Linked DNA regions of Homo sapiens. The protein of the gene in region 3 interacts with the protein of the main gene of each other region in a pairwise test. Each region holds a gene or a part of one and is shown on either strand. Other genes may lie near its edges. The genes, in order: C11orf58, CRABP1 and TRA2A.

The links.
Region 1: the proteins of TRA2A (region 3) and C11orf58 interact in a two-hybrid assay, tested with the Homo sapiens proteins (one large-scale study listed by BioGRID and IntAct).
Region 2: the proteins of TRA2A (region 3) and CRABP1 interact in a two-hybrid assay, tested with the Homo sapiens proteins (one large-scale study listed by BioGRID and IntAct).

What each region holds. Positions count from the first base shown.
Region 1 is NC_000011.10:16,748,574-16,752,229, forward strand, and holds part of C11orf58 (small acidic protein), read left to right. Parts: intron 1-3,656.
Region 2 is NC_000015.10:78,345,967-78,348,809, reverse strand, and holds the end of CRABP1 (cellular retinoic acid-binding protein 1), read right to left. Parts: intron 884-2,843; coding exon 833-883; 3' UTR 585-832; downstream 1-584. UniProt on the Homo sapiens protein: Cytosolic CRABPs may regulate the access of retinoic acid to the nuclear retinoic acid receptors.
Region 3 is NC_000007.14:23,507,882-23,511,537, forward strand, and holds part of TRA2A (transformer-2 protein homolog alpha), read right to left. Parts: intron 1-3,656. UniProt on the Homo sapiens protein: Sequence-specific RNA-binding protein which participates in the control of pre-mRNA splicing.

The DNA.
Region 1 (3,656 bases), on a different chromosome or scaffold from region 3:
AAAAAAAAAAAAAAAAAAAAAATTAGCCTGGTGTGGTGGCTCACACCTGTAATCCCAGCTGCTTGGGAGGCTGAGGCACGATAATTGCCTGAACCAGAGAGGCGGAGGTTGCAGTGAGCCAAGATAGCACCATTGCACTCCAGCCTGAGTGACAGAGTGCAACTCTGTCTCCAAAAAAAAAAATTAGAAATGTATAATAGGTAAACATGTTACATATATAAAGTATCAATTATCATGTACTTTGATTTTTAAAAGATGAGAGAGTATATGTCATTATGATATTCTAACCAAGAAACTAACCTTTTTCTGTCTCCATTTTTACTGATTCAGAACATATATTTTAATTGTAGTGAGGTTTTATGCCTCAACTTGTTAACTCTGGTATGTACAGAATTTTTGTTCTTTGTATATTAGCATATAATGTCATAGTTGGCATTTGGTTTTGTGTATTCACTAAATTTTGTTTTAAAATCTTTGAAGAATATAAACTAGTTGCAGGGCCTAAAGAAATAAGCTTTTAAAATAATTTTAGGGAAGAACATTTTTAAATAAAAACTGAAAATGAATTTGGGTATTTGGTGTGCTGAAAAGTGAAATTTTTGCCTATTTAAAACTGACCCTAATCTTGGACATTAGTAATAAAAGGCACATATTAATAAAAGACACATTGACCTAGATTATGTTTAACAAAACTTTAAGTTATTTAAATTATGCTAACACAGCATATGTAGCACATTTTAGAAATTCATAGATCTTTTATTTTTCTAGTGTTAAACAATTACTTCAAATTGATTTGTATTGCTACATAAGGCAAAAAACAATTCCTGAACTTTGCAGAATGGAAAAATATTTCAACTGCCACATTTACTCTTTTAAAACTGAGAGCTTTAAAGCAGGAGCTCCCAATCCCCGGTACCCATCCCTGGCCTGTTAGAAACTGGACCACATAGCAGGAGGTGAGTGGCACGCAAGCCAGAGAAGCTTTATCAGTATTTACAGCTGCTCCCAATGGCTTGTATGGCCACCTGAGCTCCGCATCCTATCAGATCATTGGCAGCATTAAATTCTCATAGGAGCATGAACCCTATTGTGAACTGTGCAAGCCAGGGATCTAGGTTGTGCCTCCTTATGAGAATCTAATGCCTGATGATCTGAATTGGAGCTGAGGTGGTAATGGGGAGTGGCTGCAAAAACAGATTAACATTAGCAGAGAGGCTTGACTGCACAGAGACCGTAATCAATCAACTGCTTGCAGACTCATATCAAAACCCTCTCAGTGAGTGGCAAGTAACAAGCTGCATCTAGTGGCAGGTTTTAAGTCAGAATCTGACATTTAATCTGCATGTGGCCTGCCCATTACTTATTTACCACTTCCATCCATGTCTCTTTCCTGCACTGTGCATTTGTCTCAGTCACAGTTTTGGTAAGCCCACAAGCTAACCCTAGCCAAAATGAGTAAAAAAACAAACGTCCTTGGAGAGCTTCTTTGAAAAGGGGGAAAGACCCAATGATGAGACAGCAGAAGACTCTAATACTGCCAACAAAGAGAAAGTGGCATTTAAAAGAAAATATCAAGAGTCCTACTTAAATTGTAGGTTCATTGCAATAGGTGATTCACATTCTCCAAACCTGCTTTGTCTAATATGTGATGACCAGCTATCCAGAAAAGCCATGAAACCTTTAAAAGTGCTTCACCACATGGAGACCAAACACCCTGCATTAAAAGACAAGCCTTTGGAGTTTTTCAAAAGAAAAAATCGTGAACGCAAAGAACAGAAGTAATTATTGAAGGCCACCACTTCATCAAATGTGTCTGCAGTGAGAGCATCATTCTTAGTGGCTAATCACATTGCTAAAGCTAAGAAGGCCTTTACTACTGGTGAAGAGTTGATCCTGCCTGCTGCTAAGGACATCTGTTGTGAACTCTTAGGAGAGCCTGCAGTTCAAAAGGTGGCACATGTTCCTCTTCTGGCTAGCACCATAGCTAGATGAATTAATAGAGGATATGAGGCACAGTTGTTAGAATTAATGAGTCACTGTGGTACCCAATCCAGGTTAATGAGTCTACCAGTGTTGACAGCAAGGCAACAATGCTTGTTTTTGTGTGATACATTTTTCAGGAGGATGTGCATGAGGATATATTATGTGCACTTTTGCTTTCAACCAACACCACAGCTGCAGAACTATTCAAGTCTTTAAATACATATCAGGAAAACTGAATTGGTCATTTTGTATCGATATATGCAGGGATGGAGCAGCTGCCATGACTGGACGGCTTTCTGTTTTCACTACTCAGGTCAAAGAGCTTGCTTCTGAATGTGAGTCTGTGTACTGTGTCATCTGTAGAGATGCTGGCTAGTTGGAAAATGCCACCTGAACTTACCATTTTGTAGGATGTGCTTAAAATTTTCAACCACATTAAAGTACATGCCCTTAATTCACATCTGTTCATGTAGCTCTGTGAGAAGATAGACACAGAGCACACGTCTTCTCTTATACACAGAAGAGAGACGGCTTCCTAAAGGTAGATCACTGGCCACTGTTTTTCAGTTACAATAGCTGCTCCAGAGATTTCATTTTAGAAAAAGTCACCACTGGCAGCACATTTCGTTGACACAGAATTGGGTCACAAAATTGCTTACTTGGCCAGGCATGGTGGGTCACGCCTGTAATTACAGCACTTTTGGGAGGCCAAGGCAGGCAGATCACTCAAGGCCAGGAGTTTGAGACCAGTCTGGCCAAAGGGGAGAAACCTCGTCTTTACTAAAAAATACAAAAATTAGCTAGGCATGGTGGCACATGCCTATAATCCCGGCTACTCGGGAGGCTGAGGCACGAGAATCACTTGAGCCTGGAAGGCAGAGGTTGCAATGAGCCGAGATCATGCCACTGCACTCCAGCCTGGGCAAGAGAGCGAGACTCCCTCGAAAAAAAAAAAAAAACTTGCTTACTTGTGTGACATATTCAATCTGTCACCTCAGGGGAGAACAAAACTGTGTTCAAGTTGGCAGATAGAGTGGCTGCATTCAAAGCCAGACTAGTATTATGGGGGCCACAAGTGAACATTGGGATTTTTTGACATGTTTCAAACATTAGCAGAGATTTTAAAAGAGACTGAGCCAGGACCTTTTTTCTCCCAGCTGGCACATGATCACCTATCTCAGCCTTCAAAGAGTTTGAGTATTATTTTCCAGCCACGAAAGAGCCCCGAACTGGGAAGGAATGGATTCACAACCCATTTGTGAATAAGCCAGGTGAATCGACTTTGTTCATGCTAGAAGAGGATCAGCTGCTTAAGATCACAAATGATGTTGCCCTTAAAAGTATGTTTGAGACAACTTCACATCTCCATACATTCTGGATTAAAGACAAAGTGGAACATCCTGAGATTGCCACGAAAGCACTGGAAAGCCTGCTTCCATTTCCAACCTCCTGTCTTTGTGAAACAGGGTTTTCTGTAGTGACAGCAGCCAAACAAGATTACAGAGTAGACTGGACATAAGCAACACACTTAGGGTGTCACTGTCTCCCATCACCCCTAGATGGGACCGTCTAGTTGCAGGGAAAACAAGCTCAGGGCTCCCACTGCTTCTACATTATGGTGAGTTGTACAATTATTTCATTATATATTACGATGTGATAATAATAAAGTACAC
Region 2 (2,843 bases), on a different chromosome or scaffold from region 3:
TTCCTATTGGATTTGGCCAATGGACAAAATAGGTAGAGACTGAAAGGTGGGAGATTAGGATGTTTATCCCCCTTGTTCCAAGCCAAGTCTCCCCTGACCCCATAAACACTGGGGCCATGGTTTTGGCAGTGGCTCCTCTCCTAGGTTATAGCTCTCATGGTCTGGTGACCCCTCTTTCCCTTCTATCTTCAGGCCTGGGGGTGAATCCCTCCACTGCTTGTCTTTGGGTGCCTCCCCATCCTTTGCTGGCTCTATTCATCCTGCCAGTATAAACAGTCCCTTCATTATGAGCTCTTCCCTGTTAACCCCTTTTAAATGTGCCGTTTCCTGCTGGGAACTACTGATACCAAGTAATTCAATTGAACAGCCACACTGGGAGGTGCAATCACACCTGGATCTGCAGTCTGGATCCAGCCAGTCTGCGGGAGCCCAGCTTGCAACTGCTGACGTATGCTCAAAGCCCCACACCGAGGCCAGCAGGCCAAAGCTGAGAGTACCGCACAGACCAACACAGTGCTAAGGACAGTAGGTACACAATAACTCCCACGTTGAAACTGAAGAGGCAAACCAAAAAAGGGAAAAGGTTGAGACACGTCTAACCAGTTTAATGACTTCGAAACCGTGCAAATGCCAAACTATGGAGCACTAGGGATACAAGAGGCACCAAGGCCTGGGGGGTGGGGGTGGGGGACACTACAACATTGTCATGGGGAAAACGGGATCACCTAATATTGGTAGGGGAAAAGGGCGGTCCACTGGCAGCTCAGAACTATGACATATTCCTCAGGGGAGCCTGCATCCCTTCCTGAAAGTAGGAGCAAGCCAGCTGCCTTCACTCTCGGACATAAATTCTGGTGCAGACCACGTCATCGGCGCCAAACGTCTGCAGAGAAGAAGAAAAGGAAAACCAATCAGTGCAGATGCCTGTGCAAAAATGTTTAAAGCATATCACTAATAAGGCCACTTATTGCCCTGTTAAAAACTCTTTGTAACAGACATTCAATTTCCTGTGTGTGTGCTCAGGCTAAGCATTAAGGGATATTTTTTCCCCCTTAAGCGCTATTGGTAAAGAGGTAACCAGAGTATAGAATTATGTTATATACCATTTTCCTTTGCTTATGGAACCTGTAAAATGCTGACATAAGAAATGCCAGGAGTTTTGGTTTTAAAATTAAACTGAAAGGGAAAGAATGTCACAATGGACATTTCTGAAGTGGCTCTGTCTCTTTTCAAATGACTTCAAGATAGAAAGAAGCTCAGGCAGCTGGGGTCATGAGGCCCAGCACTCACCAGCCAGTTCTGTTCCTTGCTTTGGAGAAGGAATAGAACTGCTTTCCAGGAAGCAGTCATCTAACCTGGGAGACAGGCTGAGATGCTGTATATGTAATACTCAAGTCACCTGCAAGCTAGAAAATTGGTCTCAGCTGCAAAAGCACAGCATTGGCATCCAAACCTAGCCCCTGCAGCTCACAGCTGGCTAAGCTTGGGGGCAAATGTTTTCCTCTCGTGGCCTGTTTGGGAAAGGGGCAGGCAGGGGCTGGTGTTGAGGAGAGGGGTGGAGTTGACAAGATGATCATCGCAAAGGCTCTTCCAGCTAAAATTCTATGGCTCTTAGTTTGTTTGCTGTAGGGAGGACACGAATCATTGCACAGATGGAGGAGGACATTTTTCTGCTGGCCCCTGAAATGATATTGCCCACAAGTAAACTGTCTCAACTTTCCCCCAAAACTAGCAATTACTCACAGGCCTGCTCTCCTGGACCTCTCACAGGCAGTTAGAACAGGGAAAGCAATATGTATGTTAAAAAAAAAAAAAACAAAAACAAAAACCAAGAAACAGAAATTCCCCAGTCTGTAAACCTGATGTGAGTATGTTTGTTTGCAAATGTACATTTATGTGCCAGAAGGTCCTTATCTTTCAGATTCTTAAAGTGGCCTGAAATTACAGAGATGTTAAAACCACTAAACGAGGCATTTAGCTATCCTAGGATCTTTATATTCTTACCCTGCCATCTTAGTTGGTCACGAGATGCTCTCAGAGAACATATGCTAAAACATTATCCTGACACGTGTGCTTCAGGGAAATAGTTCAAGTCCTTAGTGACTGAGGAAGCAGATGCCCATCACTAGCTTCTTTTCTTTTTGAGACGGCCTTACTCTGTCACCCAGGCTGGAGTGCAATGGTGTGATGTCAGCTCACTGCAACCTCTGCCTCCCAGGTTCAAGTGATTCTCCTGCCTCAGCCTCCCAAGTAGCTGGGATTACAGGCATACACCACCATGCCCAGCTAATTTTTGGGTATTTTTAGTAGAGATGGGGTTTTACCTTGTTGGCCAGGCTGGTCTCGAACTCCTGACTTCAAGTGATCCACCTGCCTCAGCCTCCCAAAGTGTTGGGATTACAAGCGTGAGCCACTGCACCCAGCCACTAGCTTTTCATGCTAGGGATCTCCTGACCAGACTGGCAGTTATACCCACTCCTGGACACCTTTGTCCTAGCCTCTTCTCTATTGGGAAGAAATGCAGGTGATTCTGCATGCTAGGGGGTGTGGGGCTTGACTTTCCCACCGTAAGTCTACCTCGCAGATGTCTGGACGCCTCAGAACCATGTTAATTTTCCATAATTCTTTGAGTTCTACAGCCATGGATTGTCAAATGGCTGCCAGCATTTGGGTATTGAACGCTGTACCCTGGAGAAACTATTCTCACTAGCTGACAGCTCTCCCCAGCTAACAAATAGCTTCATGACATGAGAAGAAATCGCCGCATTTCCAACCACATTTGAAGCGCCCTTCTCAGCCTGCAAACTATGCTTAGAGGTTCCCGACAGAAACTCTCTGTAGAA
Region 3 (3,656 bases):
ATCAACAGGGGAGCGGAGACTGAAGTCTTTTCAAGCTAAATTTTTTGTAGGTTGCCCAGGTAGACTGCCATTTCATACTTTCTAGTCTCCAGCGATTTCACTTACAAAGACTGACTTCAGAACATTAAAAAGGGTTTGCTAAGCTTTATACATGTTCTTTTTATAACCTGCCCCCAATCTTATTCTTTAGTTTGCAGTCTAGTACACTGATTAAGACTCAGTGAGCAGCCAAGAAGAAATGATATAAACAGACAAGAACAAATTTATCGTAATGCCTTTCAACCTTTTATTGAGACTGAACTAATAAAAGTATAATAAACTAATAAAAACTACACAATTTTTATGTATCCACAAATATTTCTCCGTAAGAGTGTCCCATAAACTAAAGGTCATTAAAAAAAAAAAAAAAAAAAAAAGGAGGTCTCACTCCATTGCCCAGGCTGGCAGTGGATCATAGTTCACTGTGGCCTCAAACTTCTTGGCTTATGCAATCCTCCAGCCTTAGTCTCCTAAGTAGCTAGGACCACAGGTTTGTGCCACCATGCTCGGCTAATTAAAACAAAAATTCTTGGTAGAGAAGGGGTCTAAACAGTATTCCATTCAATGGAATGCATTTTATTATTTATTTATGAGACCAAGTTTCGCTCTTGTTGCACAGGCTGGAGTGCAATGGCGTGACCTCGGTTCACTGCAGCCTCTGCCTCCCAGGTTCAAGTGATTCTCCTGCCTCAGCCTCCCAAGTAGCTGGGACTACAGGCATGCGCCACCATGCCCAGCTAATTTTTTGTATTTTTAGTAGAGATGGGGTTTCACCATGTTGGCCAGGATGGTCTCGATCTCTTGACCTTGTGATCCTCCTGCCTTGGCCTCCCAAAGTGCTGGGATTACAGGCGTAAGCCACCACGCCTGGCCTGCATGCATTTATTTTTGTAGAGACAAGATCTGTTGCCCAGGCTGGTCTCTTAACTCGTGGCCTCAAGTGGCCTTCCCACCTCAGCCTCCCAAATAGCATGAGCCGCCTTGCACAGCCTAATTCTTGAAGATAAGAGTTGTCTCTTTGGTCTCTTTGAAAAGAACTCTGAGAGTATTATTTGTTTCTGGGACAATTTTTTTTTCCTATTCTCTCACACACATATATATATTTGTAGAGACCAAGTCTCCCTATGTTTCCCCAGGCTGGTCTCAAACTCCTGGGCTCAAGTAAATCCTCTTGCCAAAGTGCTGGGATTAGAGGCATGAGCCACCACACCCGGTCCAATTTTTAAAAAGAACTTTACATCACATAAATGTCTGCAAAAGCAAAGCTGCAACAAATTTAACACATCTTCCATTTGAAGTTCCAAAAATCAAAATTCTCTAAGTTGATCTCCCTGCACCCCATCCTAAGCACCCCCCAAAAAAACACACACAAAATCTCTAAGTACTTCTTACTAAAACAGGGTGAGGAGCTTATATTATTATCTTCACCATATGCACACTAATAACTTTGAAACTTCAGTGAAATTTTCAGAATCAGGGAGAAGTTAGTCAAAAAGGAATACAAATTTTAAAAAGATTTTAAAAATCACTTTAGGCTGGGCGCGATGGCTCACACCTGTACTCCCAGCACTTTGGGAGGCCAAGATGGGGGGATCATGAGGTATCAAGAGATCAAGACCATCCTGGCCAACATGGTGAAACCCCATCTCTACTAAAAATACAAAAATTAGCTGGGTGTGGTGGCATGCACCTATAGTCCTAGCTACTCGGGAGGCAGAGGCAGAATTGCTTGAACCCGGGAGGCAGAGGTTGCAGTGAGCCGAGATTGTGCCACTGCCCTCCAGCCTGGCAACAGAGCAAGACTCCGTCTCAAAAAAAAAAAATCACTTTAGCCAAGTGAAGTGGCTCATGCCTGTAATCCTGGCACTTTGGGGAGGCCAAATCACTTGAGGTCCAGAGTTTGAGGCTAGCCTGGGCAATGGGGCAAAACCCCGTCTCTACCAAAAAATACAAAAATTAGCCGGGCATGGTGGTGCGCACCTGTTGTCCCAGCTACTCGGGAGGCTAAGGTGGGAAGATCACTTGAGCCTGGGAGGCGGAAGTTGCAGTGAGCTGAGATCGTGCCACCACACTCCAGCCTAGGCGACAGGGCAAAGAGCAAGACCTCATCTCCAAACAAACAAAGAAACAACAAACAAACAACAAAAAAAGAAAAAAATCAAATCACTTCAGATTGCCTGTCCCTAAAGACTGGAGACAGTCTCAGCCATACAGAAGAAACCATACAACATGCCTGTGTTAGCTGAGAATTCAGCCTGGGCAACTGAAAAGAGAAACTGTGATTTAGCTGACAAGCCTCGTCACCCCGCTCCTTAAGTAACATATTGTCACCTAGTGAACTAAAAGGAACTTCTAATCCTGCCACTAAGTAACTGCTCCTGTCTTTAAAGTTGCCAGTTAAGCTTTTTTTTCTTTTCTTTTTGAGATGAAGTGGAGTCTCACTCTGTTGCCCAGGCTGGAGTGAAGTGGCACAAACTTAGCTCACTGCAACCTCCGCCTCCTAGGTTCAAGCAATTCTCCTGCCTCAGCCTCCCGAGTAGCTTGGGGTTACAGGCGCTTGCCACAATGCCCGGCTAATTTTTGTATTTTAGCAGATGGGGTTTCACCCTGTTGGCCAGGCTGGTCTTGAACTCCTGACCTCAGGTGATCTGCCCGCCTCAGCCTCCCGAAGTGCTGGGATTACAAGGTGCGAGCCACTGTGCCCGGCCTGCCATTTTAGTTTTATCCAGAAGTGGAAGGGGACAGGTGGAATCAAGAGATAAACACGTTTCACATTAAAAAATATTAATAATAAAAAAATTACACTGTTCTGGCTTGCATTTTGCAACTTTTACTTCAGCTCAGATATCCTAGTATTTCTAAATTGATAACATGTATCTCTTAATTGAGAAAAGGAATATATAAATCACAAATACGTAACAGTAAAAAAAAAAATCATAAGACTGACAAATTAAGGCATTAAACTGCCTGTGACATAAATGACTTAAAAACTAAAGTACTAGTTTGTTAGAGTTATCCGGGGTTTCTCAACCTTAGCACTATTGACATTTTGAGACTGATTCTATGTTATGGGGTGCCAGCTTGTGTACTGTATGGTTATTTAGCAGTGTTCCTGGCTTCTACCCACCAGATGCCAAGAACTTACTGTTTTTAAAAGATAGCCTTATTTGGCCAGGCGCGGTGGCTCACACCTGTAATTCCAACACCTTGGGAGGCTGAGGCGGGTGGATCACGAGGTCAGGAGATTGAGATCATCCTGGCTAACACAGTGAAACCCTGCCTCTACTAAAAATACAAAAAATTAGCTGGACATGGTGGCGGGCGTCTGTAGTCCCAGCTACTCGGGAGGCTGAGGCAGGAGAATGGCATGAACCCGGGAGGTAGAGCTTGCAGTGAGCTGAGATCGCGCCACTGCACTCCAGCCTGGGCGACAGAGCGAGACTCCATCTCAAAAAAAAAAAAAAAAAAAAAAAAAAAAAAAAAAAAAAAAGAAAAGAAAAGAAAAGAAAAACACCCTGATTATTAAGGTCTAATAAAACTTCCAGATATATACAAATATATATATATTAATTTAAAAGACAGAAGGTCTAACAAAACTAAAAGTATTGAGCTTCAAA